Homo sapiens: one gene and its partners. The protein of the gene in region 2 purifies or fractionates together with the protein of the main gene of each other region. This does not show direct contact. Each region holds a gene or a part of one and is shown on either strand. Other genes may lie near its edges. The genes, in order: PKM, DIRAS2, HRNR, BRAF, KRT2 and KRT9.

What was found.
Region 1: the proteins of DIRAS2 (region 2) and PKM purify together in Homo sapiens (affinity purification with mass spectrometry, with the first as the bait; one study listed by BioGRID). This does not show direct contact.
Region 3: the proteins of DIRAS2 (region 2) and HRNR purify together in Homo sapiens (affinity purification with mass spectrometry, with the first as the bait; one study listed by BioGRID). This does not show direct contact.
Region 4: the proteins of DIRAS2 (region 2) and BRAF purify together in Homo sapiens (affinity purification with western blotting; one study listed by BioGRID). This does not show direct contact.
Region 5: the proteins of DIRAS2 (region 2) and KRT2 purify together in Homo sapiens (affinity purification with mass spectrometry, with the first as the bait; one study listed by BioGRID). This does not show direct contact.
Region 6: the proteins of DIRAS2 (region 2) and KRT9 purify together in Homo sapiens (affinity purification with mass spectrometry, with the first as the bait; one study listed by BioGRID). This does not show direct contact.

Annotation. Positions count from the first base shown.
Region 1 is NC_000015.10:72,209,528-72,214,716, forward strand, and holds part of PKM (pyruvate kinase PKM), read right to left. Parts: intron 952-5,189; coding exon 820-951; intron 333-819; coding exon 146-332; intron 1-145. UniProt on the Homo sapiens protein: Catalyzes the final rate-limiting step of glycolysis by mediating the transfer of a phosphoryl group from phosphoenolpyruvate (PEP) to ADP, generating ATP.
Region 2 is NC_000009.12:90,614,707-90,619,895, forward strand, and holds part of DIRAS2 (GTP-binding protein Di-Ras2), read right to left. Parts: intron 1-5,189.
Region 3 is NC_000001.11:152,211,068-152,215,374, forward strand, and holds the end of HRNR (hornerin), read right to left. Parts: coding exon 2,009-4,307; 3' UTR 1,009-2,008; downstream 1-1,008. UniProt on the Homo sapiens protein: Component of the epidermal cornified cell envelopes.
Region 4 is NC_000007.14:140,914,051-140,919,239, reverse strand, and holds part of BRAF (serine/threonine-protein kinase B-raf), read left to right. Parts: intron 1-5,189. UniProt on the Homo sapiens protein: Protein kinase involved in the transduction of mitogenic signals from the cell membrane to the nucleus. Phosphorylates MAP2K1, and thereby activates the MAP kinase signal transduction pathway. Phosphorylates PFKFB2.
Region 5 is NC_000012.12:52,648,554-52,654,328, forward strand, and holds the start of KRT2 (keratin, type II cytoskeletal 2 epidermal), read right to left. Parts: upstream 3,659-5,775; 5' UTR 3,590-3,658; coding exon 3,005-3,589; intron 2,001-3,004; coding exon 1,786-2,000; intron 1,422-1,785; coding exon 1,361-1,421; intron 550-1,360; coding exon 454-549; intron 1-453.
Region 6 is NC_000017.11:41,564,121-41,569,533, reverse strand, and holds the end of KRT9 (keratin, type I cytoskeletal 9), read left to right. Parts: coding exon 1-108; intron 109-900; coding exon 901-1,026; intron 1,027-1,148; coding exon 1,149-1,372; intron 1,373-1,783; coding exon 1,784-2,261; 3' UTR 2,262-2,301; intron 2,302-3,381; 3' UTR 3,382-3,698; downstream 3,699-5,413. UniProt on the Homo sapiens protein: May serve an important special function either in the mature palmar and plantar skin tissue or in the morphogenetic program of the formation of these tissues. Plays a role in keratin filament assembly.

The DNA of each region.
Region 1 (5,189 bases), on a different chromosome or scaffold from region 2:
GATAAATGAGTTATAAAAGGGATTCCTGAGAACACACAGACTCAATCTCACTGCCAGGCAACCAACCTTCCCATCTTCCTTGTGTCAAGGAAGTTTAGAGACAAAAGACTGTTTTAGACAACTGGACTCCAGCTCCCATACGTACCTTTCTGCTTCACCTGGAGAGAAATAAGCCCATCATCCACGTAGATCTTGCTGCCCACTTCCACCACCTTGCAGATGTTCTTGTAGTCCAGCCACAGGATGTTCTCGTCACACTTTTCCATGTAGGCGTTATCCAGCGTGATTTTGAGAGTGGCTCCCTTCTTCAGCTCCACCTCTGCAGTGCCGCTCTAGGGACAAGAGAGTAAGCAAGAGTCCAAACTGGAGACACCAGTAGCAGCATCACCTCAGAAGGAATGGAAAAGCTCTTTCCTCCCGGGAACAATGCTCAAGTCACTGCTAAAAGTAATACAGTTTTTTGCTCTTATTCTCTAACTCTGTATACTTCACGGAAATAATCCAAGAAAAGAATATGTTTCAGTTATGCTACTTAATGATGGGGAAAAAGATACAAAGAGATGGTTCTCCAAGTTAGAAAGCCTAAAGTTTAGGTTTTTAGGGTAAAAAAAAAAGGTTCCTTTGTGGTACCATTTCCTAGCAAAGTAGATCAAATCAACATTGTTTACAGTGATGAATAAATCCTCATTTGTAGACCTCAACTCCTCTGCAGTCCTTCATAGTACTGGGAAGAAACATGGCAACCCAGCGCTTTGGAGGACATGTCTCTGGGGCATATTGCCTACTGAGCCTTCCCCTCGCTCTCCGCAGAATACTCACGCCCTTGATGAGCCCAGTTCGGATCTCAGGTCCTTTAGTGTCTAGAGCCACAGCAACGGGCCGGTAGAGGATGGGGTCAGAAGCAAAGCTTTCCGTGGCTGTGCGCACATTCTTGATGGTCTCCGCATGGTACTGGGGGAAAAGAAGGAAGATGACAAGCGTGCTCCCACACTAGAATCCAGCTCCAATTCCCCTGCCCAGGAGCCAAAGCTGATCACTCAGGAAAGGCCCGTGGATGTCTTAGAGCTCTATCTCCATCCTCAGCACGATCCATGCACTGAGAAATCCTCTACCTGCTTAATCCAACCTCCTCAGCCTCCACCCACTTCTACTACAGCACTAATTCACCCAAAGGGCAAATCTTTGAAATGTAGGTGGCAAATTTCAGAATATTGCCACCAAAACCCATTAAGGTATGGGTGCAAACATGTCTCATCATAAAAGCAGCTGTGTCCCCAGGGCTGTTCTTTTTTCCCTAAGACTCATCAAATACCCTCAGCATATAAAGCTCATAAACAGGGCAAAAAGCCTAGGACTTGTGTTTGGATAAGGCTGGTCTGGCAATCAATGTCACATTCTGATATATGTGGTAATGCTGAGAGCTTTTCCTCTATTGATTCCAACTACAACGCAAACTTGAAGTTATTGACTTAAGCTAACAGTGGCCCAAGCTAAATAACTCATTGCTAAGGTCACACAGACCTGATTTTCTCAATCGCTTTGTTTTTTTTTTTTTTGAGACAGAGTCTTGCTCTGTCGCCCAGGCTGGAGTGCAGTGGCACTATCTAGGCTCACTGCAAGCTCCACCTCCCAGGTTCACGCCATTCTCCTGCCTCTCAGCCTCCCGAGTAGCTGGGACTGCAGGCGCCCACCACCACGCCTGGCTAACTTCTTCGATTTTTAGTAGAGACGGGGTTTCACCATGTTAGCCAGGATGGTCTCGATCTCCTGATCTCGTGATCCGCCCACCTCGGCCTCCCAAAGTGCTGGGATTACAGGCGTGAGCCACTGCGCCCGGCCTCAATCACTTTCTAGATTCTGATTGGAGGGGGAAAGGTGGTCATATGCCTTTCTCTAAATGAACTGCCCTTTATTACTCCTTGCTTACAACAAATCCTGGCTTCAATCTTTTTTCTTAAGCCTTTCCTCCTTTCCATTTACCATTTTGTTTGTTTAAAAGAGGGACTCAGGCTAAGCACAGTGGCTCATGCCTATAAACCAAACACTTTGGGAGGCTAAGGTGGGAGGACAGTTTGGGCCAGGAGTTTGAGATGAGCCTGGGCAACATGGCGAAACCTCGTCTCTACAAAAAACACAAAAATTAACTGTGCATGATGGTGCGTGCCTGGGGTCCCAGCTACTTGTGAGGCTGAGGTGGGTTATGTCTAGGAGGTCAAGGCTACAGTGAGCCATGATCACACCACTGCACTCCGGCCTGGATAACAAAGCAACACCCTATCTCAAGAAAAAAAAAAAAAAAAGACGCAGAGCCAAGATGTCAAAAGAGCTCTAAGATAGTGTCATCAATAAGACATTAGCGGTAACAAGGGCACCTAATTCAGCACTTTCTGGGCCTTGTCCTTTAACCACCACTGTCCAGGAAAGTGGCACCTGCAAGTAAGCCTGCCTGTTATTCACAGGAGGCTGGAGGGAGCTGGAGCCAGAGCCTAGCCTCTAAAGACAGTGTTGCCTGAAACCTGTGTCTAAAAATCTTCAGCTTCTTATTCAGGCATACTTCCTAATGACAGACCCTTGGCTTGTCTGTTTTTTATAGGGTTCCTTATAAATTATGATATTTTCTTGCTTACTGGCTTGTAATAGAAATAGAACAAAATAGAATAGAATAGAGGCTGGGCGCGGTGGCTCACACCTGTCATCTAAACACTTTGGAAGGCCAAGGCGGGTGGATCATGAGATCAAGAGATTGACAACAACCAGGCCAACATGGTGAAACCTCGTCTCAACTTAAAATACAAAAATTAGCTGGGCGTGGTGGCGTGCACCTGTAGTCCCAGCTATTCAGGAGGCTGAGGCAAGAGAACCACTTGAACCTAGGAGGCAGAAGTTGCAGTGAGCCGAGATCGTGCCACTGCACTCCAGCCTGGGCGACAGACAGAGTGAGATTCCGTCTCTAAAAGAAAAAAAAAAAAAAGAATAGTAATAGTTGTTTTCTTTTAAGGGGATAGGTGGTGCCTTTCCTTCAGAGTTGACGTGAGGAGTAAAAGAATACATGAAGTATTAGGACAAAGTACATGGTAATTATCTAATAAATGTTACCTATTATCATCTTATAATGATAAGACTCAGGTGTACTGAGTTCCACTACAGCTGTGGCTTTGTTGGGATGTTATCACGTGGATAAGAGTTCCACACATCAATGCTGTCCTGCGGAAGGCTCTATATTTAGCTATATTTAGGTTGTTTAAAAGTCAACCTTAACTCAGGCCAGGCGCAGTGGCTCACGCCTGTAATCCCAGCACTTTGGGAGGCCGAGGAGGGGGGATCACAAGGTCAGGAGATCGAGACCATCCTGGCTAACATGGTGAAACCCCGTCTCTACTAAAAGTACAAAAACAAAATTAGCCGGGCGTGGTAGCAGGCGCCTGTAGTCCCAGCTACTCGGGAGGCTGAGGCAAGAGAATGGTGTGAACCCGGAAGGCAGAGGTTGCAGTGAGCCGAGATCGTGCCACTGCATTCCAGCCTGGGTGACAGAGCGAGACTCCGTCTCAGAAGAAAAAAAAAAAAATGTCAACCTTAACTCTACTTAATCCCGATGTAGAATTTTGTTCTCCTAGAATAAAATCTACTTGGTCATGGATCAAGACATTCCTTTCAATCACTACTGGATTTGGATTATTAAATTTTATTTGTTTTCTGCATCTAAGTGAGACTGGTCTAGCACACTAACTGTTAGTACCTGCCTGGTTTTGGTACTGTCCTTGTTTGATCTCAGTATCAGCGTATATTGGTTTCAAAGAACACAGTGGGAAGATTTCTATATTTCTCTAGGCTCTGGAACAGTTTAACAATGTAACTGAACTTTGAAGGGGAGACAATTCAGCCACTAAAATCATTTGGACTTAAGTGTTCTGAGGTGAACCAGATCTTAATCACTTTTTCAACTTTTTGGCTGGAGTGCAGTGGCGCGATCTTGGCTCACTGTAGCCTCCACCTCTCAGGTTCAAGCGATTCTCCTGCCTCAGGCTCCCGAGTAGCTGGGACTGCAGGCATGTGCCACCATGCCCAGCCAATTTTTGTATTTTTAGTAGAGACAGGGTTTCACCATGTTGGCCAGGCTGGTCTCGAACTCCTGACCTCAAGTGATCCCTCCGCCTTGGCCTCCCAAAGTGCTGGGATTGCAGGTGTGAGCCACCGCACGCCCAGCCCACTTTTTCAACTTCTTATGGCCACTGGTCTATTCATATTTTCTATCTTTTGGATATTTATCTTTTCTTTGAAAATAGCCAGAGTCATCTCTCTATATAGGAATTAAGTTATAAGTCTTTCTTGACTTTTAAAATCTCCAATGTGTAGGAAATATTCTCTTTTCTATTCATACTCTTATTTGCACATCCTCGCATTCTTCACCTGGCTTCTCAGAACTTTCTATTTTACTATTTTTTCCCCACAAAGAATCAGCTCTTAGCTTAATCTGTCAAATTTATTTTCATTTCATTGAGCTATAATCTTACAAAATTATTTTCTTCACCCTTTTTAGGGTTTTCCTCCCCTAGTGTTCTGAGTTAAATATTTATTTCATCTACCTTGAGATCTTTGCTTTCTAAAGTAAGCACACTTCAGTTTTCTTGACTTTGTTCTTAATTTCCACTAAAAAATTTTATCAGAGAATGTGTCTGTATAATTTCTACTTTATGAAACGTGGGGGTTTTTTTGGTGGCCTAATATATTTTTGTAACCATGAGTGTTTCATGCAAACATGCATTTTTGGTCTTGGGGATGTAAAACCATATATTATAAACATACCAATTATTAGGTATATTATTCAAATCTATGTCATATATCATAATCTCTTAGAGCATCTCTGGGAGGTGTACTGAGTCTTCCACTTCAGCTGTGGCTTTATTGGGATGTTATGTGGTAAAGCATCCATCAATGCTGTCCTGTGGAAGGCTCTACATTTAGGTTGTTTAAAAGTCATTATTTCTAGGCCAGGTGTGGTGGCTCACGCCTGTAATCCCAGCAATTTGGGAGGCCAAGGCGGATGGATCACTTGAGGTCAGGAATTCGAGATCAGCCTGGCCAACAAGGTGAAACCAAGTCTCTACTAAAATACAAAAATTAGTCGGGTGTGGTGGCAGGTGCCTGTAATCTCAGATACTTAGGAGGCTGAGGCAGAAGAATCTCTTGAA
Region 2 (5,189 bases):
ATTCATCAAAATTAAGATGATTATATAAGCTTTATTTTTAAGAAACATAAGGAATCAGGTATTACCAGGATAGTAGCATAAACTACTTTTTAAGGGTCATTAAAAATGAGGAGAATGCAGCAACTCTTCATCACAAACTTCACCCCTAGTTTAATATTTATTTTTATTCAGGGATGTGTAGATGTGCCTTCTTAATTTACAATCTATCAAAATTTTTTCATTCTGTACCTTCTTCGGTAAGGAAGGACATATAACACCAAACAAAATAGAGAATTACACAATTTGGATACATTTTTAAAACTGAAGTTGATAAGTAACATGGTAATGTGAAGCATGGAATTCATTCTTCTCAGCAAGCAGGCATTGTGCTGACTTTTCACCTTTCTAGTTTTAGGGCAACTTTGGAAAAACAATAAAAAGCTTTACTGAAGCAAATAAGTTTTAGAGTCCAGTAAAAATATTAAACATAACTACCAATGGAAGGAAATGCATTTGTGCAGTGAATATGTTCTCCTGACAGACAGAACATCAGGTCAAAGCCCTGGACTGAGGTATTCCACCTTCTCATTTTGCCTCATGCGTCTGCCTACAAATCTGCTCGATTCAATACTCAGCTGTTCTTGCATGCACTTTGGAATCCCAAACCCTCCAAGAAGCTAAGGAAACATCAATGCTAACAGAAAATATAAAAGACTGTTAGGAAGTTCATTAACACCAAAAGATGGCAGAAGAGTCTGCTTAGGAGTTTGGTGAAGTTTATTAAATGCTTATGAGATAATTATGATTAATTCAAGGGTGAAGCATTGTGATAAATTTTTCCACAATTTTTTTAAAAAAACTCAATCGTGTCTTAGTTTGTTTTCTGTCACTATAACAGAATACCTCAGATGAAATAATTTTAAAAGCAATCTACTTCTTACAGTTCTGGAGGATGGTAAGTCCAATATGAAGAAGCTGGATCTGGTGAGAGCCTTTTGTTGCCTCATAACATACTGGAGGGCATGGCATGATAAGACAGAGCAAGCATGTCAGCTAGGGTCTCTCTCCTTGTCTTATAAAGCCACTGATGCCATGACAGGCATTGCCCAGCCTCCTCATGACCTCATCTATTCCTAAAAGCCCCACTTCCAAATACCATGAACATACACATTTGAGGATTACATTTCTAACATATGCACTTTTAGGGAACACATTTAAACCATAGAAAATGGACAATGGAATCTAATCTTAAGCTTCTTTCTACATCCTCAGAATGAAGCTCTCTTTTTGCTTAGAAGGGAGTTTCCTCACTCGTTTTGCCTTGTATTATGGTTATGTAGCTCCAGACTAGAGCATAAGCATCTAGCTGGAAGAGAACATATCTTAACAAGTTCTGCATCCCAATGTATCTCAAAGATCTCTTGGTTCACAGCACATACACTCTTTATGAGTTTGCTGAATATGTGGTCAGCTATGTTAAGGTGTCTCCATTATTAAACTGGCAACGAACACATAGGAAGTAAATGCTAAACATAAAATAAAGTATTCATGGCTACAATTATTCATTTACCCAGAGAAATATCCACTGAGCTTCCACTAAACCAGGCTGTGGACAAGCGGCCAGAAAACAACTGTGCAGAGGACAGACTTAAGGAAGGATCTCTATTCTCATGAAACTCAGAATCAAGTAAAGCAGACATCAATCCAAAAGATAACTTCATAAATATTTAATAAATTATATCATAGCAAGTGCTGCAAAAGAGAGGTCTGAAGGAATTTCATGAAATTTGAGATATCAGGAAGAATTTCACTAAGGAGGTGGCATGGAAGCATGAATCTGAAAGATGAACAGGAGTCAGAAAGTTGAAGGGGTATAAAGTTCAATGTGCATTTATGAGATAGGCCTGGGCCAATAACTCCATAGTGATCTTCAACTCACTAACAAAAACCCAGACTGTAGAGAATCACTTGAACCTGGGAGGTGGAGGTGGCAGTGAGCTGAGATCATGCCACCGCACTCCAGCCTGGGTGACAGAGCAAGACTCCATCACAAAAAAAAAAAAAAAAAAAAAATTGTAAACTATTTTCTTCCATGTCAGAACCATTCATTTATTTCACAAGCATTTATAAAATGTCTTCTAGATACTGTGCAAACTCAGTGCTTACCCAACAGCACTCACAGCATTAGAGGGGGGACAAGCATAGGAAAGTATACATTACGCCCCACTTCGCAGATGCTGTGATCTAGTTATCAACAAAGGCAGGATAAGAACCTAGTGGGGAATCTAGCTCTGCCTGGAGCCCTCAGGAAGCATTTCACAGAGGGCTGGAACTTGCCAGATGGTGAAGTGATGAAAGGCGTGTTAGTCAGAAGAAAGAACTTCATAGGAAGGAATAAATGGAGGAAATAGAGCTAATGCTCATGCCATGGTAGACAGCTTGTGTAAACTGGCATCCAGGAGTGAATTTGGGGTAGCAAGTGAGTGGTGGCACTCACCATCAATCAAGATAAAAGGCAGAAGAGAGAAGCAGCTTTAGAGAAATGACAGTAAACAACAAGGAGAAAGGAGCTGTGATTGGGTCAGGTTTATGGGACAAATGGGGGAGATATCTGGTAGGTGATTGGGATTTAGTGTGAAAGTTCAGCAGAGAGGACTCATCTAGTGATAAATATCTGGATACCATTCATACACAAACAGCACTATAATAAACAAAAATTCTCCAGGGAGAGAGCATGTAGAATGAAAGGAGAATACCACATGCCCAATCTGTTATATGCTATTGAGAGAACTTGGCAAGTTACTTAAACTTTCTGCATTTGAGTTGCTTTAGCTAGGAAATGGATATAATAATGCCAAGTTGTTTATGAGACTAATGTGGGGAGTAACACAATGCAATCAAGCACTTGAACAGCTCTCAGCACATAGTTTTTTGGCTACATTCAAGAAGGACCATGCAGATAAGGGGTTCATAAAGGAGCAGTATGATGGACAAGGAGAAAAATTCACAAGAGGGCAACTAGCTATTAAACTCATTCAATAAGATTTCAGAATACAACATTCATATAAAGAACCAACTGTATTTCTATACACTTGCAATGAACAATCTGAAAATGAAATTTAAGAAAATAACTCAATTTATAATAGCATCAAAAAGAGTAAGATACTTAGGAATAAATTTAACAAAAGATGCAAAACATATCTGGAAATTACAAACATGGTTGAAAGAAATTGAATACACGAATAAATGGAAAAGCACCCCATGTCATGTATCAGAGGACTTTTACTGCTAAGATAGCAGTATTTCCAGGAATCACCTACAGATTCAATGCAATTCTTAAAAGCATCCCACTAGCGACTCTGCAGAAACTGACAAACCGATCCCAAAATTTATGTAAAAATTCAAGAGACCCAGAATAGTCAAAACAATGTTGAAAAATTAAAAGTGAAAAAGCTGGCAGACCCATACTTCCTGATTTCAAACTCACGACAAGGATATAATACATCAAGAAATTGTGGTACTAACACAGGATACACAGATACATGAACAGAATAGAATTCAGAGTCCAGAAATAAACCCTCATATTTACAGTCAATTGTTTTTTGACAAGGGTGTCAATAAAATTCAATTCAAAAGGCAGAAGGAATAGTCTTTTCAACAAATGACGCTGAAACTGGTAAAAGAATAAGGGGAGCACCTCTCCCTCACACCATACACAAAACTGACTCAAAATAGATCAAATACCTAAATATAAGAGCTAAAACTATAAAACTCTTAGAAGAAAACATAGGTATAAACCTTGATAACCTTGGAGTAAACAGTGTTTTCTTAGATGTGACACCAAAAGTATGAGCAACAAGATTAAAACTAGGTAAATGTGACTTCATCAAAACTAAAGGACACAATCAAGAAAGAAGTAACCCACAGGATAAGTGAGTATTGTTATAAATCATATATCTGATAAGGGACTAGTTCTGGTATATACAAAGAACTTCTACAATTCAACAACAACAAAACAACTCAATTAGAAATGGGCAAAAGACTTAAAAAGACATTTCTCAAAAGAAGATATATGAATTTATTGACTATATTTAATAGTCAATAAGAAGATATACAAATAGCCAATAATAAGTCAATAACATGAAAAGATACTCAACATAATAGTCACCAGGGAAGTGCAAATCAAAACTATAACAAGCCTGTAATCCCATCACTTGGGAGGCCGAGGCAGGCAGATCACAAGATCAAGAGATCAAGACCATCCTAGCCAACATGATGAAATCTTGTCTCTAAAAATACAAAAATTAGCTGGGCATGGTGGCGCATGCTTATAGTCCCAGCTACTCAGGAGGCTGAGGCAGGAGAATTGCTTGAACCTGGGGGGCAGAGGTTGCAGTGAGCCAAGATCTCACCACTGCACTCCAGCCTAGCAACAGAGTGAGACTCTGACTCATCTCAAAAAACAAAACAAAGGCTGGGGGCGGTGGCTCATGCCAGTAATCCCAGCATATTGGGAGATCGAAGTGGGTGGATCACCTGAGGTCAGGAGTTCAAGACCAGCCTGGCCAACATGGTGAAACCCCGTCTCTACTGAAAATACAAAAAAAATTAGCCAGGTATGGTGGCAGGTGCCTGTAATCCCAGTTACTTGGGAGGCTGAGGCAGGAGAATCACTTGAACCCAGGAGGCAGAGGTTGCAGTGTGCCAAGATCACGTCATTTCACTACAGCCTGGGTGACAAGAGCGAAACTCCGTCTCAAAAACAAAACAAAACAAAACAAACTATAAAGTACCGCTTCATACTCACTTGGATGGTTATAATCAACAACAACAAAAAACAAACCCAGAAAATAACAAATGTTGACAAGGCTGTAGGAGCATTTGAACCTTTGTGCATTGTGCATTGCTGGCAAAAAATGTAAAATGATATTGCTGTTTTGGAAAAAATTCTAGCAGTTCCTCAAAAGGTTAAACAGAATTATAATATGACCCAGCAATTCCCCTCCTTTGTATATACCCATGATAAATAAAAACACATAGCCACACAAAAATTTATACAATGATACTCATAGCAATATTAAGCATAATAGCCAAAAAGTGGAAACAGCACAAATGTTTGTAACTAATGAATGGATAAGTAAAATGCAATCTACCCATTTCATGAAATATTATTCATCAAGAAAAAGGAACTGGTACATACTGCAACATGG
Region 3 (4,307 bases), on a different chromosome or scaffold from region 2:
TATAGTAAAGTACACAATCGTGTTGCTTAACAATGGGGGATATGTTGTGAAAAATGCACCCTTAGGCAAACATCAGAGAGTGTACTTACACAAATATAGATGGTATAGCCAATAAACAACTAGGCTATATGGTATAGATTATTGCTCCTAGGCTACAAACCTATACAGCATGTTACTGTACTGAGTACTGTAGGCAACTAACACAATGGTAAGTGTGCATCTAAATGTATCTAAACATAAAGAAGGTACAGTAAAAATATGGCATAAAAGATAAAAAAGGTACACTTGTATAGGGCACTTACCATGAATAGAGCATGTAGGACTAGAAGTTGCTGTAGGTGTCAGTCAGTGAGTGGTGAGTGAATGGGAAGGCCTAGGACATTACTGTATACTACTGTAGAGTGTGTAAACACTATACACTTGAATTACACTAAATTTATAAAAGAATTTCTTCCTCCAGTAAAAATTAACTTTAGCTTACTGTAAATTTTTAGGTTTATAGACTTTTACATTTTTAAACTTTTTGACTCTCTTAATTAACACCTAGCTTAAAGCACGAACACATTGTATAGCTGAACACAAATATTTTTTTCTTTACATCATTATTCTGTAGGCTTTTTTCTGTTTTAAATTTTTTTAAAAAACTTTTTTTGTTAAAAATTAAAACTAACACTAAAAAGTTTTTGTTAAACCAAGACAAATATCGCCTTCTACCTCCATATGTTGTCTCCCTCTAAGGGCTTCAGGGACAATAAAATGTATGGAGCTGACAGCTCCACATTATTGTGTGTGATTTTGGTGTCATATCAAAAAAATCATTGCCAATACCAGTGTGATGGAATTTTGATCATTTTAAAATGAAGTAGTTTGTCTTATTGAGTTTTAAGAATGCTTTATCTATTCTTCATTGTGAAAAATAGAATATTGGGAAATCGCTGTTTGGTTTGGTTTCTAGGATGACCATCTGTATGTAAGAAGTGAAATGAAGCACAGATGAGAAAAGTCTTAGTATTTAATCAACATTTATTTATTGTCAATTTTAATACAATCCGGTTGTTTGAATCCAAAGACTTGAAACAAATGTGTTACAGTCAAATTAAGGAACTATGTAGCAGTGACAGATACTCTTCCTTTTCATCTGGGCATGGATGATATTTTTTCAGGTGGAAACGTTATTGAACTACAGTAGTAGGTGGAAAGCATTGTATTTCCATGGAATAACTCCTCAATATATTTCCCAATATTGAGCAGCCTCTTAGAAATAGGGAGCAAGATCTTTCTGCTGAAAACAAGCTAAAGCCCACATTTGAATGTTTTTTTTTTTCCTGAAATGATAAATCCCTATTCTTTATGAAATAATGCTCTTGCTCACTGGCTTGGGAAAAGACCCTGATGCTACTTTTTTATGCCACTAATTAACTTACTGATTAAATATATACCCAAGAAAAAGGACTTGATGGTTTTGATAAGTAAAGACACTACCGCTGCTGCATCTTTGCTTTCAGAGCCTTCACCTTCTGCCACAATACCAAAAATTGGGACACACCAAACTTGGGGCACACTAAAAATTAGGGTACACTAATTGCTGTAAAACAAAGCTTTGTATCTAGGACTGGTAATGCATTTGTAATATTTTGCTTCTAAGAAATGTAAGGTTAGCTTTGGCACCATCTATAAATGAATGATGAGCTCTCAAAAAGACAACTCCAACTAAACCCAAAGCTCTTTAAAAGCTTTTCATTATTCCTCAAAGTTTAACCCTCATTCTAACAAGTTATTCCACTCAGTATTTTCTAACAAAGTAGCACAAATGCCTAACAGTCTTTGGAAGGAACCCCATAACAAGATATATGCTACAGTTTTAGGCTCTAAAGAAAGAGACAGAAATGCATTGATTCACTTTTAGAACGAATTTCATGATGGATTGCTTGTCTTTCATGATGAATTCATAGATGACTTTCCTATTTCTTAAATTGCTACTTGAGTAAATTGCATTTATGTTTATTATTCACTGATAAAAGTAGCACCTCTGCTCTTGGACATATTCATAGGGTGAAGTGCTACTAGGAAAACTGAGAAAATATGAGCCAGAACTTCCCCCATCATGGTTACTTCCTCCTTTGCAATAAGAATACCCATCTTGCCCTGAGCCACTTCCATGCTGACTATAACCAGAGGACTGTCCTGAGCCAGACCCATGTTGGCCGTAGCTGGAAGACTGCCCTGAACCAGACCCGTGTCGGCCGTGGCTAAGAGACTGGCCAGATCCAGCCCCATGTCGGCCATAGCCAGAAGACTGACTGGAGCCAGAGCCACGGTGGCCATAGCTGGAAGACTGGCCTGTGCTAGATCCCTCCTGGTCAAAGGTTGATGACTGTCCTGATGTAGAACCATGCTGTCCTTGGCTACAGAAGTGCCCTGAGCCACTACCATGCTGACTGTAAGCAGAGGAATGTCCTGAGCCAGACTCATGTTGACCAAAGACAGAAGAGTGACCCAAGCGAGACTCATATGGGCCACGGCTGGAAGAACGACCTGAGCCAGACCCATGTTGGCCGTGGCTGGAGGAGTGCCCCAAACCGGACCCATGTCGGCCGCGGCTAGGGGACTGGCCAGATCCAGACCCTTGTCGGCCGTGGCCCGAAGACTGACGGGAGCCAGACCCATGCTGACCATAGTGGGAAGACGAACCTGAGCTAGATCCGTGTCGTTCACCCCTAGATGACTGTCCTGATCTAGAGCCGTGTTGTCCGTAGCCAGAGGAGTGACCTGAGCCAGACCCATGCTGACTGTAACTAGAGGACTGCCCTGAGCTAGACTCGTGGTGACCAAAGCCAGAAGACTCGCCTAAGCCAGACCCATGTTGGCCACTGCTGGAAGACCGACCGGAGCCAGACCCATGTCGGCCGTAGCTGGGAGACTGCCTTGACCCAGACCCACGCTGGCCGTGGCCTGGAGACTGGCCAGATCCAGAGCCCTGTCGGCCATAGCCAGAAGACTGACTTGAGCCAGAGCCATGCTGACCGTGGCTGGAAGACTGACCTGAGCTAGCTCCATGTTGGCCACAGCTCGATGACTGTCCTGATGTAGAACCATGTTGCCCATGGGTAGAGGAATGACCTGAGCTAGATCCATGTTGACCGTAGCCAGAGGACTGTCCTGAGCGAGACTCTCGGTGACCTAAGCCAGAAGAGTGACCGGAGCCAGACTCATATGGGCCACGGCTGGAAGACCACCCTGAGCCAGACCCATATGGGCTGTAGCTGGAAGACTGCCCAGAACCAGACCCATGTCGGCCACGGCTAGGGCTAGGAGACTGGCCAGATCCAGACCCATGTTGGCCGTGGCCCAAAGACTGACGGGAGCCAGACCCATGCTGACCATAGCTGGAAGATGAACCTGAGCTAGATCCGTGTCGTTCACCCCTAGATGACTGTCCTGACCTAGAGCCGTGTTGTTCGTAGCTGGAGGAGTGACCTGAGCCAGATCCATGCTGAGTGTAACCAGAGGACTGCCATGAGCTAGACTCGTGGTGACCAAATCCAGAAGACTGACCTGAGCCAGACCCATGTCGGCCACTGCTGGAAGACCAACCGGAGCCAGACCCATGTTGGCCGTAGCTGGAAGAGTGCCCGGAACCGGACCCATGTCGGCCGCGACTAGGAGACTGGCCAGATCCAGAGCCCTGTTGGCCATAGCTAGAAGACTGACTTGAGCCAGAGCCATGCTGACCGTGGCTGGAAGACTGACCTGTGCTAGATCCCTCCTGGTCAAAGGTTGATGACTGTCCTGATGTAGAACCATGCTGTCCTTGGCTACAGAAGTGCCCTGAGCCACTACCATGCTGACTGTAAGCAGAGGAATGTCCTGAGCCAGACTCATGTTGACCAAAGACAGAAGAGTGACCCGAGCGAGACTCATATGGGCCACGGCTGGAAGAACGACCTGAGCCAGACCCATGTTGGCCGTGGCTGGAGGAGTGCCCCGAACCGGACCCATGTCGGCCGCGGCTAGGGGAATGGCCAGATCCAGACCCTTGTCGGCCGTGGCCCGAAGACTGACGGGAGCCAGACCCATGCTGACCATAGCGGGAAGACGAACCTGAGCTAGATCCGTGTCGTTCACCCCTAGATGACTGTCCTGATCTAGAGCCGTGTTGTCCGTAGCCAGAGGAGTGACCTGAGCCAGACCCATGCTGACTGTAACTAGAGGACTGCCCTGAGCTAGACTCGTGGTGACCAAAGCCAGAAGACTCGCCTAAGCCAGGCCCATGTTGGCCACTGCTGGAAGACCGACCGGAGCCAGAC
Region 4 (5,189 bases), on a different chromosome or scaffold from region 2:
GGACGGTGGTTTTCAAAGTACGCCAGAGCTCTAGGAGAATTTTTCGAAAACATTCTATCATTGTAAATAATAATTTTTTTTTTTTTTTTTTTTGAGACGGAGTCTCGCTCTGTCTCGCAGACTGGAGTGCAGTGGCGCGATCTCAGCTCACTGCAAGCTCTGCCTCCCGGGTTCACGCCTTTCTGCCTTTCTCCTGCCTCAGCCTCCCCAGTAGCTGGGACTACAGGCGCCTGCCACCACGCCCAGCTAATTTTTTGTATTTTTAGTAGAGACGGGGTTTCACCGTGTTGGCCAGGATGGTCTCAATCTCCTGACCTCGTGATCTGCCCGCCTCAGCCTCCCAAAGTGCTGGGATTACAGGCGTGAGCCACCACACCTGGCCAGAATAAAAATTCCAAATTGCACTAATGCATATGTGAAACTGTTTTTGTCTGTTTTGTAGTTTTAAAATCTTCATCTATAATAGTACCTGGCACATAGGTACTAAAATATTTGGTGAAAGAATTAGTGAATAAAACCTTACTGGATATGAGGTGATCTGATTTTCTGTAACATTCTATTCTTTTTTTCTGCCGGTCACAAAATCACCTTATGAAATTGACAGCCAAATTGGCTGCAACAGGCAGTTTGAAAAACACTGTTTTGGGGTTTCAAGGACCTTCTTCAGAGGTTACCCCAGGGCTCTGTTTAGTGCCTCTATACCAGGGGCCCCCAACCCCTGGGCCACAGCCTCGTATCTACCAGTCCGTGACCTGTTAGGAACCTGACTACACCGCAGGAGGTGAGTGGCAGGCAAGTGAGCATTACCGCCAAAGCTCCACCTCCTGTCAGATCAGCGGCAGGAGCGTGAACCCTATCAGAAACTGTGCATGTGAGGGATCTAGATTGTGTGCTTCTTGTGAGAATCTAATGCCTGATGATCTGAGGTGGAACAATTTCATCCTGAAACCCCCTCTACCCCTGTCCATGGAAAAATTGTCTTCCATGAAATTGGTCACTGGTCCCAAAAAGGTTGGGGAGTGCTGCCCTATACCATAACTATTGAAGTTCTTCATTTATCTGCTTTACATGTTAGTTTCCTTGAAAAAAGGGTTTTATGGCTGTAAAAATTTTAGAGCTACTATGTATGGAAGAGAGGTTTGTGCTGGCATAAATCTTCTCAGGTATCATCTGTGTAGAAAATTTCAACAACTTGTGTCTTAAGGCAGAGGTCAGCAATCTTAAGGGTCAGATGGCAAATATTTTAGGCATTGTGGGACATACAGTTCCTCTCACAATTCCTCAACAATACTGTAGTAGCTCAGAAGTAGCTAATAGACAATATTTAAACAAATGAGTTTGACTCTGTTCCAGTAGTCATTTTCAGGACACTGAAATTTGAATTTCATATCATTTTCATGTGTCATGAAAATCTTCTTTTGATTTTTTTTCTACCACTTAAACATGTAAAAAGTATTCTTAGCTTGTGAGCTATACAAAAGCAGATAGTGGGCCAGTTCATGGGCTGAACTGTTCTGACTCCTGGTCTAAGGGAGACTATATATGTTATATTTGAGGTTCTCAAAGTAAGATGTAGGTTAGAGGTCTATAGAAAGTTCATAATTGCTTTTGTAAAAACTAGATTGATTTATTTGAGAGGGAGAGAGAGGTGGAGTTTCACTGTATTGCCCAGGCTGGACTTGAACTCTGGGCTCAAGCAATCTTCCAGCCTCAGCCTCCCAAGTAGCTAGGACTACAGGCATGCACCAAGCCCAGCTCCTAGTTCCTCTTTGCACTCAGTTTCATCTTCTACCCTCAGCCCCTGGCAAACACTGGTCTGATCTCTGTGCCCTTTCCAGAAAGTCATATAAATGGAGTCATATAAAAGTCATATCAGTGGGGCCGGGCATGGTGGCTCACACCTGTAATTTCAGCACTTTGGGAGGCTGAGGAGGGCAGATCACCTGAGGTCAGGAGTTTGAGACTGGCCTGGCCAACATGGTGAAACCCCCTCTCTACTAAAAATACAAAAATTAGCCGAGCATGGTGGTGGGCACCTGCAATCCCAGCTACCTGGGAGGCTGAGGCAGGAGAAACACTTGAACCCGGGAGAGGGAGGTTGTAGTGAGCCGAGATCGCGTCATTGCACTCCAGCAATTGTGAAGCAGTGGTTAAGGTTCATTCATTATTTTACATATGGATGTCCAGTTGTTTCACATTTATCAAATTTCTTTTGAATCACCTTGGCACTTTTATTGAAATCAATTGCTTATGTTTGTGAGTTTTGGATTCTACTGTTTTATTGATCTGTGTGTGTTTTCTTAGGCTAATACCCCACTACCTTAGTTATGATAGCTTTATAGTTAAATTTAAAATCAGGTAGGTCCAGTTGAGAAGATTTTTAGAACTTTGACTTTTTAATTTCTTGTTACCATACTTTTGGAAGGAGAAGACTCATAATTTTATTCAGGTTTTCAAAGGTGTCTTCTACCCCCAAATACTTAAGACTTCAGTATATAGTTAATATATCTCTGTCTTGAATTATGTGGTGGTGAGGTTCATGAAAAGTGACAGGTAAAAGTTGCAACCAAAATTAATTTCCTTATAAGAAAGGACATATTTTAGTAGGTTGCACAGAAAAGTCAATCACGTCCTTTTTACCGTGTTGCATTATGAGGTGTAATCAAAATGTGTATAGGGGAAAATGAATATGTTAAGATGTTTATTCACCAAAAAAAGTCACCGAAAGTGTCAATTAGGTTGTGAAAGATACTAGTTTACAATGTGTTATTCTCCATCTTCATTAGAAGAGTTCTTCCATTTGAAACCTATGTCATGTTCTGTGATATTTCAGAGTTAGTATCTTTATGAATCTTAGGGGCATCATTAAATCATTATGTTTCTTCTAAGGAAAGGCATATGGTAGTAGTTGGTCATATTTCTACCTTTTTCAGTGGGGCCTATAGGGCCCCTTTACTTTGTTTTAAACTGCACTGATAGCTTTTTACTGGTTAGCCCAGGGAATTATCCCTACAGTGTAAAATGATGTTTCTCATCATGATTTTCATTTAATAATTTAAAAACAAAATAACAGGAAACACATGTTTCTAGAGAGGAAGTGTGGAATACCTGACTAGTAGAGGGTCAGGTGACAATTGCGAAGGTAGAAACTGACTAAGTTTTGACCATGTTGCAAGGAGTATCGTTCCAGTTTTGTTGGGTCACCTTGCAGAGTTTTTAAAAAAAATCCTTGGGTTTTTTTTGTTTGTTTGTTTGTTTGTTTTGGTAGAGATGCTGTGTTGCTCAGGCTAGTCTCGAAATCCTGGGCTCAAGCAGTCCTTCCCAGAGTGCTGGGATTACAGGCATGAGCCACCGCACCCAGCATCACCTTGCCGATTTTGAAACTACACTTCCAGGGAGAGAGTAATACAATATCTTGGCAGACTATTTTTAACTATTGTTCCAAAATTAATCTGTTTTTAAAAAGTAAAGAAGTGTGGATATCTTTAAAAGATACTTTAATTAGGCTGGTCACGGTGGCTCATGCCTGTAATCCCAGCACTTTGGGAGGCCAGGATGGGTGGATCACCTGAGGTCAGGAGTTCGAGACCAACCTGACCAACATGGAGACACTCCGTCTCTACTAAAAATGCAAAAAATTAGCCGGGCATGGTGGCGCATGTCTGTAATCCCAGCTACTTGGGAGGCTGAGGCAGGAGAATTGCTTGAACCTGGGAGGCGGAGGTTGCAGTGAGCCGATATTGCGCCATTGCACTCCAGCCTGGGCAACAAGAGTGAGGGAAACTCCGTGTCAAAAAAAAAAAAAAAGATACTTTAATTATATTTAAGTTGGGGAATACTTTTGTTTTATATTTTTTCTTGCACTAAATATGTAACCTTTAAGTTAATAACACCAGAAAATTTTTACTTTATAGTTTTAGAACTGCTTAATTGAAATAAAATGTTAGGATACTTTGAATTAGTCACTTATTTTGGCATATTTTAAACAGTTTAATGTACTGCTTGGGGTTGTTTCTCAATTGACTTGATATTTTTAAACTGTATTTTTTACCTTGTACCATTTATTTTGCAAAATAAATTTCTATTTTGGCTTATAGATGTATTTTTAATATTAAAGGGGATTATTGGTGTCAGCCATAAAATTGTAATTAAGTCTTAAGTAGGTATGGTTTTTTTTTTTTTTTTTTTTTGGAGACGGAGTCTCGCTCTATCATCCATGCTGGAGTGCAGTGGTGTGATCTCGGCTCATTGCAACCTCCGCCCCCCCCCCCCCCCGGGTTCAAGTGATTCTCCTGCCTCAGCCTCCAGAGTAGCTGGCACTACAGGCGCATGCCACCATGCCCGGCTAATTTTTTTGTATTTTTGGTAGAGATGGGATTTCACCATGTTAGCTAGGATGGTCTCGATCTCCTGACCTCATGATCCGTCCGCCTCAGCCTCCCAAAGTGCTGGGATTACAGGCATGAGCCACCGTGCCTGGCTGATTATTTTTATAGAGCTCTTGTTAGCGTAATTTCTGGTAATGTTTTATGGAGGTGACTTAATTCCCATCATAAAAATATCCCATCTTTTCTGTGACTAGCAAGCAGTTATTGCCTTTATAACTTTTTTTTACCATAAAAAGATAAAGTACTATTGATAATTACTCCTAATTAACTCAGAACTTTTTTGTTTTACACACATTAATATATACTTCCATGGGAATAGTGTCAGAGAACATCAAATAGGGAAGAGATTATGATTCAGAGTGGTCTTTATATTCCTATTCTAGAGCCACAGAAAATGTTCATCTCCCTTTAGTTTTTGCAGGATTGCCTCTAACACTGATGATATTCCACTCATATTCTTCCTGCACATGCCTTCTCATACTAACAGTAAGTCACACAATCTCAAATAAGTTTCATTATACATGAGAACTCAGTTGAATGCTTGCCTTTCACTGGCATCTCTTGATCCTCCTCCCCCTCCTTATGGTATGCACTGAACTTCTAGTAGGCCATATGTGTTAAGTAGATCATAGGAGTGCTATGAAAATAAAGTGAAATGATGAATATGTAAAAGCCTTCACAAAATTATAGTAGTGTTTTCTGTTGATTTTTAAGACAAAAGATAAATACTATGTATGTAAAAATTTCCTTTCAGAAATCTTTGTTCTTTTTTTTGTTTTGAATGTTCAATATGCTTAGCAC
Region 5 (5,775 bases), on a different chromosome or scaffold from region 2:
TTCAGCACTTAAGCCAGTTATGGTAAGTGCCCCCAGACAGAAGCTTGTCCATGGCAAATACCTTAAATGGACTTCCTGTTTCAGAAATCATCTGTGCACCCTTGGGTTGGGGAGGGGGATAGGAGACAAATGCATTTTGACCTCTGAAGTACAGTAGGCACAGGAATGGGCACAGGGCTTGTCTCTTCCCCAGGGGAAATGGACATCTGGGGAATGGAGGGAGGGGAAGCTGTCCTGGTGTTTCCTGAACCTTATTCCCATAACATCGGAGGAGAAAATTCCTCACCCACAAGACCTATGCTATGAAAGCCCCCCCAGTGGCCTGGAATGATGGCAGATTGAAGTCAGCTGGTCCATAAACCCCACTTCTGCCACTTTTTCACCAAGCAGAAAGGACTTTCATTTGGTGAGAAGGGTGGGAAGTAAGGGACTGTCCCGGAGCAGCCTCCTTACCGCATCATAGAGAACTTTCAGAAACTCAATTTCCTGGTTCAGCAGGTCCACCTTGGACTGCAACTCCACCTTTATCATGTAGGCATTGTCCACGTCCTGCAAGAAAGGTTGAGGCCTCTGGTGTATGGTTCCCTGTACAGGCCTCTTCCTCTCTCTGCCACTCCCCTCTACTCAGTCCCTGCTGGCTCCTCTCTAAAATCCCAGGCTCCCCAACCTGATCCCTGTCCCCATGGGACTTCTTTTGTCGTGCAGTTTACCATACACCTCTGCCAGGGACTTCATGCCTACGTCCATGGCTCACAGCCCTCAGGACCATCAGAGCCTCGAGATGACCAAGCTTTGCCAACCAGCCCCTCTCTCCTGCTTGAGACACTGTGTGTTTCTACAACAGGATACGATGTTCTTTGTGGGTTTCCACAGTCCTCAGCTCTCTCATCCCGTCTGTCCATCTCACCTCTCCGAAATTTCCCCAGAATATACACCAAAGGCCCTGCAGGACCCAGCAGGAGAACCCTTGCTTTTGGCCTACAACCTCAAACCTTTGTCAGCACAACCAACAGCAACTTTAAGCAGGCATTCTAAGGGAAGTCCCATTCCTTCCTCAGCTCTTTAGAAGGAGAATACAAAGAGATTTTTGTGTTTGCATTTATCATGATTCAGTAGAGGCTTTAAGTGGGTTACTACTGGGAAGCACTCTACCAAAAATGCAGAACAGCTTTGAAAACTGTATCCAGAAGCTTGACCTACAGAGACAATTTTGTTTGCAAGAGAATGTGCCATGGGTCTCACTCCTTTCTCTGGCTGCTGCTTTTGCACTCACAGTTGATTTCCAAACTGGCTGCTTAGACACAATGGGGCTGTGAAGCACTCCTATCCCCACCCCCAGCCAAGACATTCTCTCGCTCACCTTTTTAAGCGTCACAAAATCATTCTCAGCAGCTGTGCGCTTATTGATTTCATCCTCATACCTATTGGGACACAGATGTTACAGCAGTTAGATTAGTTCCCCTTCATTTTTTTTCTTTTCCTTTTATACTGGATTCACCCCAAATGCCCCATTCTCTGGGAATATTACACACTTTTTAAATATCTAAATTGAAACTAAGATTTCCAAACTAAAGATATATTTTTATAAACTAACTCTCAAACATACAAAAGACAAAAATGATCTCTAAAGTCTCACTGTCTTCCTCACAAATAATCAACAAAGATACATATGCCTCTCCCCATTACCACCACAAATGCAACTGGGAGATGAATGGCTTTCCAGGGAGTGATCAAATGGCTCAGTGCAATGTTTATCTCCACTCAGCGTTTCACTCTGCCACCTACTTCTTCTTATAATCCTCCACAAGATCCTGCATGTTATTCAGCTCTGAATTCTGTGATGTTCTTTCTGCAGTGAGCCCATCCAGATATCTCTTGAGGCTGTCGATATACCCCTGGAAGATGGGCTCCAGGTTGATGGGGCGGGTGCCAACATTCATTTGTTGTAGCAGCTCCCATTTGGTCTGTAACACCTGGTTCTGCTGCTCCAAGAACCGCACCTGCCATGACCAGAAGGAGAGCACATGAGTTCTAGATCATCCTTCACACCAAGCAAGCCACGCTGGCCAGGGGCAGCTCAGGTGCTGCTTCAGGACCTCGAGAAGTGTCTGAGGCTGGATGCCGAGTCATGACTGGCAGAGCTTCTGAGCTCCCTGCTTTCGCCCCTGGAAAGTCCCACAGACTCCTAATGCTACATCCGGCTCTCTCCACGCAGAGGAGACTCTTTGCTGCTTCACTGCTCACTGGTTTGTTTGCAGCTGCTCCCAATACTCTAGACCATTTCCCTCCCCGCATCCTGGTTGAATTTCCAGCCAAGATCCCATAAATTCTGGGGAAAACCGAAAGCAGCCATCTGCTGGCACTGCTCGCAAGGGTGCTGAGTATGAGAGTCCCAGAGGGCAGGGCTCCTCAGCCTGATTTTTAAGAGCCTTGTAAATCCCTGCCTATTTCAAGGCAGATAAACCAAGACAGGTTCGTCTGCCTTGAAATAGGAGAAAAGCCAGTAACACTCCGAAGTGACACCAATAAAGACTTTATGGATCACAAAACTGAGAACGCTTCTCTTGAAGGCAGGAATTTCCTGCATTCCCAAGCAGATATTTCAGGTTCAGCTTCCCAGAGTTTAGTAATCACTGCTAAGGAAGGAAACACTATCTCAGAAGACGATGGCTTCCAAAACCTGCTGCTCCAGTGGCCTGTCCCAAGGATCAGTTCAATACTTGCCTATATCCATTTTTTATGGTTTTCAGAATTTTCCATAAATATTATTTATATGGACTGTAACAATAAGGTCAAAGGGACAAATGCTTCCTAAGTGCAGGCTGTTATGGGAAATGTAACCCACAAAGCTGGCGTCTTTTCCATCTGGAAACCGCAAATGACCCAGGCTACTGCGGTACACCACTGGCTCCTAAGAAATACAAATCTGTGCCATTTTCTTTTTGGTTGGCTCTGGAAGTGAAGTGGCCTGAGCATCAGTGGGAGCCGTCTTCTCCAGAGTCACCTTGTCAATGAAGGAGGCAAATTTGTTGTTGAGAGTTTTGATCTGCTCACGCTCTTGGGCCTTCACATTCTGGATCTCTGGGTCAACTTTCACGTTGAGAGGCTGCAGGAGGCTCTGGTTGACAGAGACTTCGTGGATGCCACCAGGGTATCCTCCAGGCCCAAAGCCACCAGGACCCCCTAAACCTCCAACACCACCAGGGCCCCCAAAACCTCCAAAGCGGCCTCCACCAAAGCCGCCTCCACCGAAACCACCACCACTGAAGCCGCTGCCACCTCCAAAGCTGCTGCCGCCTCCAAAACCACCTCCTCTGCCACCAAATCCACCAGCGGCGCCAAAGCCACCACCTCCTCCAGCCACACTAATGGAGATGCTCTTGGTCCCTCCAAGGCCAACAAGACTCCGACTGCCAAAGCCGCCTCCACCGAAGCCCCCGCCACCACCACCATGGCGGCTCAAGCAGGAGAAGCTGGAAGTTGATCTCCGGCTTCCACCAGACACCACAGCTGAGCCGCTGCTGAAGCCCCGGAATCCTCCTCCACCTCCTCCTCTTCCTCGAGATTTGCAAGAGATCTGACAACTCATGATGCCTTTGTCCAGGGAGGAAAGTCACAGGCTCTTGAGAAGAGTCAAGGCTGGAGACTCAACTGTGCTGCTGGGAGGCTTTCAGGGTCCCCTTATATACCTGCCAACTAGGTGTTGTGTACATGGGTGTGGATCCACTTATACGTGGGTTTGGTCTGCCTGGGAGCTATTCCTGGTGCGTGATTATCAAGCTAATAGCCATTAAAAATCTACTAATCAGCTCCATCCCAGAACTTGCTTTGATTGCAAACTTCTGTTTATCTGGGCATCTGTCATGCAATTTGATTTTTGTAAAATCATCAAAAGAGGAGATCAGGGTTTGGGTTTCTCAATCTGGAAAAGGACCTTCTGCAGAATGCTGCTCCCTGTTCTGGACCTGCCCAAGGGAAGTCAGCTACCACCCATGCTTGTGCAGGCTCACCACCCCAGTTCAACAATGAAAGGGATGGTGGGTTTAGAGACTGCAAGAGCCCCTCAATGCCAGCCTTGTAGTTCTCTTGTAGTTTCCCTCTTTCCCAGAAAGAGCCCCAACTAGTGCAGGGGAGACTGCAAAGGTCTTAAATGACCTTAAATGCTAATTGGAAATCGACCTCCTCTTACAGAAAGTAATTGGCCTCGGATACTGCAAAAGAGGTGTCGATTTTCAAAATATCTTGGCTCTTTTCTTCCCATGCCACACCAAAAATACACAATAACTAGGCACCGAATAGAGATTTTTTATAACCATGATGGTTTGTATAACCATCAACTGTCCCTTGTCTACATGAACACCCAGAGGTTGAGAGGTATGAGAAAAGTTTCGCTGTTTCTGGACCTGTGTGATGCGGGACACCAAGTGAAAGTTTGCAAACCAAGATCCAAGTGTATATTGATTCAGTCAGTCAGTAATCACGTATTGCCTGGTGATCCTGGGAAGTGATTAGGAAGTCAGGCTCTTCAATGACATCCACAGATGCTTGAGGATAAGAAGACCATCCAGCCTGCACAGAGCACTCACACTTAAACTCAACCACTTCCTCTGTCCATGTGGCCAACTATGTGGGAGAGGTTCTTGGAGTAATAAAACTGAATTTAGTCAGAAATTCTGGGTTTGAGTCCCAGTTTTGCTATTTATTGGCTGTGAGGCCTTGAATGAAACCCTGAGGCTCTGTGGTCCCAGCTATAAAATGGGAAATTCGTATGAAGTGTTTTGAAAACCACCGTGCACAATAAAATGTCAGTATCATTATTGTTTGGGGTGAGACAAAGATAATTCCTTTTCCTTTCCCCCTTGCCATGTTACTGTCTTCTGGCTACTATGAACATGCACTCTCCACAGGCATCATAAATTACAGAACCAGGTGGTTCAGATCCTAGTACCAAGTTATCACAAAATAATGTAAAAAACATAAGTTTGAGGTCAAATCCCAATTTTCTTGTATCTTAGTTAAATGACCTCAGATAATCCATAATCCTCTTCAAGCCTCAGTTTCCTCATCTATAAAAAGTGAACAAGAATAATAAGAATATGGCTACTGTGAAAACAGAACAATACACACATGTGCTAAACACAGTTCCTAGTTCATAGCAGAAACTCAATAAATGCTATTCACCCTTCTGCATCTTCCCCGCCAAGTTTCCAATCCTGTCTTAACTACTATTCAAGGTATTTAATTTGCAGTAAAAGAATGCTGAAGGAAACAAAGCTACATGTCTCCTCAATTATTTTTTCCAATCTGGTTTGCATAATTATAATCATGCAAACAAATCATGAAGCTAACAGCTTTGGAGACAGTCTCAATCCAAAGCAAAATGTGTCATTATCTACAGATATCTGAGCAATGCCCTAGTCGTCCCTTACTCCACCATGACTGTGCTCACACTATGGCAGCTTCAGGGGGGTCTTAATGCCTCTATGAAGGAAATTGAGCCAGATTTGTGCTAGGCACCCAATCTGCATGTTTTACTGCATTTTAATTCTGCCCTCACACCCTGGTCTCCCTCCCCACTCTCTCCACTGAACATCTTCTCCTTCTAGACCCATTCACCAATTTTTGAAAGTCAAGTTGAAAGAGTCCTCCTACTCTTTTGAAATGTGGAGACTAGAATTAATGCAATTTGAATATTATGTAACATTTTATTTCTATATTTTTAAATTTTCAACTTTTACATAATCTCAATGTGCTTTCCTAGATAATATGCTTTGC
Region 6 (5,413 bases), on a different chromosome or scaffold from region 2:
GTTGCTCCTGGCAAAGATCTCACCAAGACCCTCAATGACATGCGTCAGGAGTATGAGCAGCTCATTGCTAAGAACAGAAAGGACATCGAGAATCAATATGAGACTCAGGTGAGCAGAGTGGGCTGCCCATTCATCCTCCTCCCCTCCATCTATTCCTATCTCCATCCCTCCCACCTCCCATTCCTTCATCCTCCTATCTCTGCATCTCTCAGTGCAGCTGTCATTTATCCATCTTCCAATGGAAGTCATTCATCCATCTTCATTCACTGCATACAAACATCATTACAAAGTAGCTTCTCAGTGCCATGTTATATGTAAAGTATTGATGTCTCAGAGGTATTGATGTCTGATATGAGCCAAACAAGACTGCTGCCCTTGAGAAGCTCACAGTTTATTAGATGTGTGTGAACAAAAGCAGAATGTGAACAATTTAATCTAATGCTATGTAATGTAAGACTATAGCAGAGGGATACAGTGTGTCTCCCATACTGTACTGAGCTCCTTGGTGGTTCCCTTCGTCCTTGAGTCTCCAGTGCCCAGCCAGAGTCTGGCACATACATGAAGGCATGGTCTGTGCTGTGTGTGTGTGTGTGTGTGTGTGTGTGTGTGTGTGTGTGTGTGTATGTTTGAAAGGTGGGGGAAGTTTGGAATAAGGTTAGATTAGAAAGATGGTTGTGAGACAAAGCGTGAAGGGTCTTGCAACTTTGTTGAGAGGGAATGTCATGTTGAGAGGACTGGACAACCCTCCATGGCTGGAGGGTACCCAGAACTCAGAATGACTTGTCATTGGCTTCAGATCAGCCTTGGCCCTGGAGGTGAAGATCCTGGTGAATGGGGCAGAATCTCACTCACTGAAGCTCCTGGCACAGCCTGATGCTTACTGAGCCTTTGGTTTTGCAGATAACCCAGATCGAGCATGAGGTATCCAGTAGTGGTCAGGAGGTGCAGTCCAGTGCCAAGGAGGTGACCCAGCTCCGGCACGGTGTCCAGGAGTTGGAGATTGAGCTGCAGTCTCAGCTCAGCAAGGTTGGTAGTTCTGCTATAGACCCTTTGCCAAGGTGGGGCACAGGAAGTCTTTGCAGCCCAGGAGTGGGAAGAAGAGGAGTTATGATGTAGCATCCCTCTTAAAGCCTTCTCCTAACCCTTAGAAAGCAGCTCTGGAGAAGAGCTTGGAAGACACGAAGAACCGCTACTGTGGCCAGCTGCAGATGATCCAGGAGCAGATCAGTAACTTGGAGGCCCAGATCACTGACGTCCGGCAAGAGATCGAGTGCCAGAATCAGGAATACAGCCTTCTGCTCAGCATTAAGATGCGGCTGGAGAAGGAAATCGAGACCTACCACAACCTCCTTGAGGGAGGCCAGGAAGACTTGTAGGTCCCCCAGGATTTGGTGGAACCCCTGGGGGTCCCTAGGCCTCTGATACTACTTCTGTCCCTCTGGATAGAGGCAGCTGGGGGAAGTTCTTATACACAGGGTCTTATGGGTTGAGGACTTCTTCATCCTGGGGGCCGGGGGGACCTCAGTGCATTTGGGCTTTGGGAAAGGAGGATGGTGACACTGAGAGAACGGGCTGCCTCCCTGCTCCAGGGAGGGGAGGGCTCCACAGTCTCAGCTGGAGGCTCTCCTCTCCCAGCTGTGGTGCCCGCCCAGACTCTGTCCTCTGCCTCCCAGGAAGGAAAACAGAAAGATTCATGTTTGGGTCCTGACTCTGTCCAGGTCCATCCTCATATATGTGTATGGGGGCCGCTCATTTTAACTCTCTTGTTTTCTTTCTTTCTTAGTGAATCCTCCGGAGCTGGAAAAATTGGCCTTGGAGGTCGAGGAGGAAGTGGAGGCAGTTATGGAAGAGGATCCAGGGGAGGAAGTGGAGGCAGCTATGGTGGAGGAGGAAGTGGAGGTGGCTATGGTGGAGGAAGTGGGTCCAGGGGAGGAAGTGGAGGCAGCTACGGTGGAGGAAGTGGTTCTGGAGGAGGTAGTGGAGGTGGCTATGGTGGAGGAAGTGGAGGTGGCCATAGCGGAGGAAGTGGAGGTGGTCATAGTGGAGGAAGTGGGGGCAACTATGGAGGAGGAAGTGGCTCTGGAGGAGGAAGTGGGGGTGGCTATGGTGGAGGAAGTGGGTCCAGGGGAGGAAGTGGAGGCAGCCATGGTGGAGGAAGTGGTTTTGGAGGTGAAAGTGGAGGCAGCTACGGAGGCGGTGAAGAAGCGAGTGGAAGTGGTGGCGGCTACGGAGGAGGAAGCGGAAAATCATCCCATTCCTAGTCTTCTTCCTCAAAATCTGGTGACCAAGATGAGACAAAAGGTAAGGGACAATCCTAGGTTGTGGGGTGGAGAGTCAAGGTCTCACCTTTTTTTTTTTTTGAGTATTTTTGAATCTCTGGGGAACACAGATTCTGAATAGAGCTAGATGTTAGGGAAATCTCTAGTGAGGTGTCAGAGACCTACCCTTGGTTCTGAATTGATCATTATTTTTGACAGAGCCTAGGATGAGGCTAGGACCAAATCTACACATGGCTGAGTCTCAGTAGTGTAGGAGATGGGTTGAAAATTGTGCATTATCATGACACACGCTATGAGGTAGGTTTTATTATAATCCCCATTTTAAGGAAAATGAGGTTCAGAGAAAATAATTTGCTCAAAGTCATACAATCACAAATGAAGGGTTCAGCTCTGTGGGGCTTCACAGCCAGTACTTTCAACCTTCATGAGGATGGGGGACCTGGATCAGCAACAGTTCAGGTGGAAAAGAGACTCAGGGATTTTAGTCAGTGGTTGGCTTGCACAAGTATTACATGATGCAACTGCCAAAAGGATGAACATAATCTAAATGTAAGAAAGGCTCACACAGGTGAGTTGGTCTCTAGATCAGGGAACATTTTCCCATGTACACATTGAATTTTATAAAATAAAAATGTAATATGAAATTATAGGAAAAGCCTGGGTAATATAACTGGGAATGTTTAGCTCAGAGAAGACTTGAGGTGCTTGGGAGCTGCCCTGCAGGGTGTCTAATGTGGTTTTGTGAGTCCAGTGGCACTGCAGGTCCATGGATATACATCTAGGAGTGAGGCTGGGGCCATCTTTTGCCTCAATATACAAAAAATTGACTAACAAATCTGTTGAATGGAGGGGGCTGCCTCATAAGCCCCCCATCCTCAGACTTGGGGGTGCATCTGTCAGGTTTGCTGCAACAGAGATTCAGGAATTAGATGGGGACCAGTAGATTGGGAGACCCCAGGGTCCTTCTACCTCAGGATTGTCCAGCTCTTTGAGCTCTAGTGTCCTTGCTTCGAGTTTCCCCATCTTCCCCCAAGTCCCAACCTCTCTGCTCCTGCTTACAGTCCTCCCTTCTCCCCCTCATCTCCCTTCCATCTCTCCACAGGCTTCCTTTCGCGATACTAGAGCCTCTGTAAACTTCTCCTGCCCAGCCCCAGCTGAGCATCCCCAGATGGGCAGACTCCCGATGAAGCCTGCTTATTGGATCCTGACATCAGGAATAGCTGGCAACAAGCCCCTGTGCCCGTTTGGGACTGAACTGACTTGGCATATGTGCCTCTGGCTTTCCATTGGCTTCCAACCCTGCTTGGCTTTGATGCCTTCAGGGTTGGGGAGACAGACCTCTTTCCTCTCTCTGGCCTGGGGTGCTCTCACACCCTGCACGATCTTGACTATAATAAAGCTTCCCTACTGCAAATCAAACTCAGACTTTGACCCATTTGTTCTTTGGGATTAAGAAGGGATAGGGTGGGTGGGACACAGTAGCTCATGTTTGTAATCCTAGCACTTTGGGAGGCTGAGACAGGAGGATCACTTGAGGCCAGGAGTTCAAGACTAGCTTGAGCAACATAGTGAGACCTGTCTTTACAAAAAACTAAAAACAAAACAAAACAAAAATTAGACAGGCATGGTTGCAGGCACCTGTGGTCCCAGCTACTCAAGAGACTGAGGTGGGAGGATTGCTTGGGCCCAGGAGTTGGAGGCTTCAGTGAGCTATGATTGCATCATTGCATTCCATCCTTGGTGACAGAGTAAAGGGATAATCAATCTGTTATAAAGAGTGTGGGTTCACTTTTCTATTAGTTAACTTTTGCTTGTAACAAAGGAACCCACATTTAGTGGCTGAAAATAACAACCATTCATTTAGCTTAACAGTTTTGCAGTTTAGTCTGGGAAGCTCTGGTTCCCTTTATGCATCTATGGTTCGCTGCAAGTCAGCCAGGTGGCTCTTCCTCTGGTAGTTGGCTGGATGCTGGCTGGGGTGATGAGGATGAATGGGGTCTGTGACTCCCATCCTCCAGCCAACTAGCTTGTGCATGTGTTCCAAGGTCATGAGCAGAAACATGCAAGGCATCTTGAGGTTTAGGTTCAGAGAAGTCACTTTGGCTGTATTATATTGGCCAAGCAAGTCGCAACCTAGCCCAGATTCAAGAGCAGGGGAAATAGACTTCTCTTGAGGGGAGGAACTGCAAAGTCACATGGCAATGGGCATGGATATAGGGAGGGCAATAACTGAAGCAATTTTTTGCAAACAATCTACCATAGTCTATTGTCACGTTGTGTGTTAGCTATGGAGGAAAACAAGACAAAAATGATGTGGTCTTTGCTTGCAAGATTTCAAGTAAAAAATATAAAAAATATAAAGTCCTTCAAGGCAAAGTAAGGGACATTCCACAAGACATCAGCCAACAATATTCTCTAAAGATTCTGATAGTCAAAAATCCTTTTTATTACTAGGGACAAATAGCCCCCCTCAGCCTATGTACCAGACACTATAGCTGCTTATTAAGCTACCCCAAAGTATAGAGGCTTAAAATGACAAAATTCATTTTGCTCATGAATCTGCAATTTTGACAGGGCTTGGTGGGGACTGCTTGTCTCTGCTCCTCTTGGTTTCATTGCTGCTTACAGGCTGGGGGCTGGAGTCATTTGAAGTCTTAGTCACTTACATACCTGGGCTCGCTGGGGCTCCTTGGACATCTCTCTCTATCTCTATGGAGAGTCTCAATGTGATCCCTCCAGCACGGTAGCTTCAGGGTAGCCCGACTTCTTATATGCTGGCTCAGGGCTCCCAAGACACATGTCCCAAGTGAAAAACCGCCAGAAAGAGGCTGTTTGACTTTATCACCTGGAAGGGGAAGTCACACAGTGCCACTTCTTCTGTAGTCACAGGCCTGCCTAGATTCAAGGGAAAGGGAATAGACCTGTGGTAGGCAGAATTCTGAGATACTTTCCCAAGATTTCTGGCCCTGCTGTACACATATCTTCTTCCGGTTATTCAATCAAACACTAACCTAGGTGCTACTGTGAAGGGATTTTGGTAATTAAGTTCTGAAATGTGTTGACTTTAAGAGAGGGAGATTATCTGGCAGACCTGATTTCATCACATGAACCCTTTAAAATCCAAGAGTTTTGCC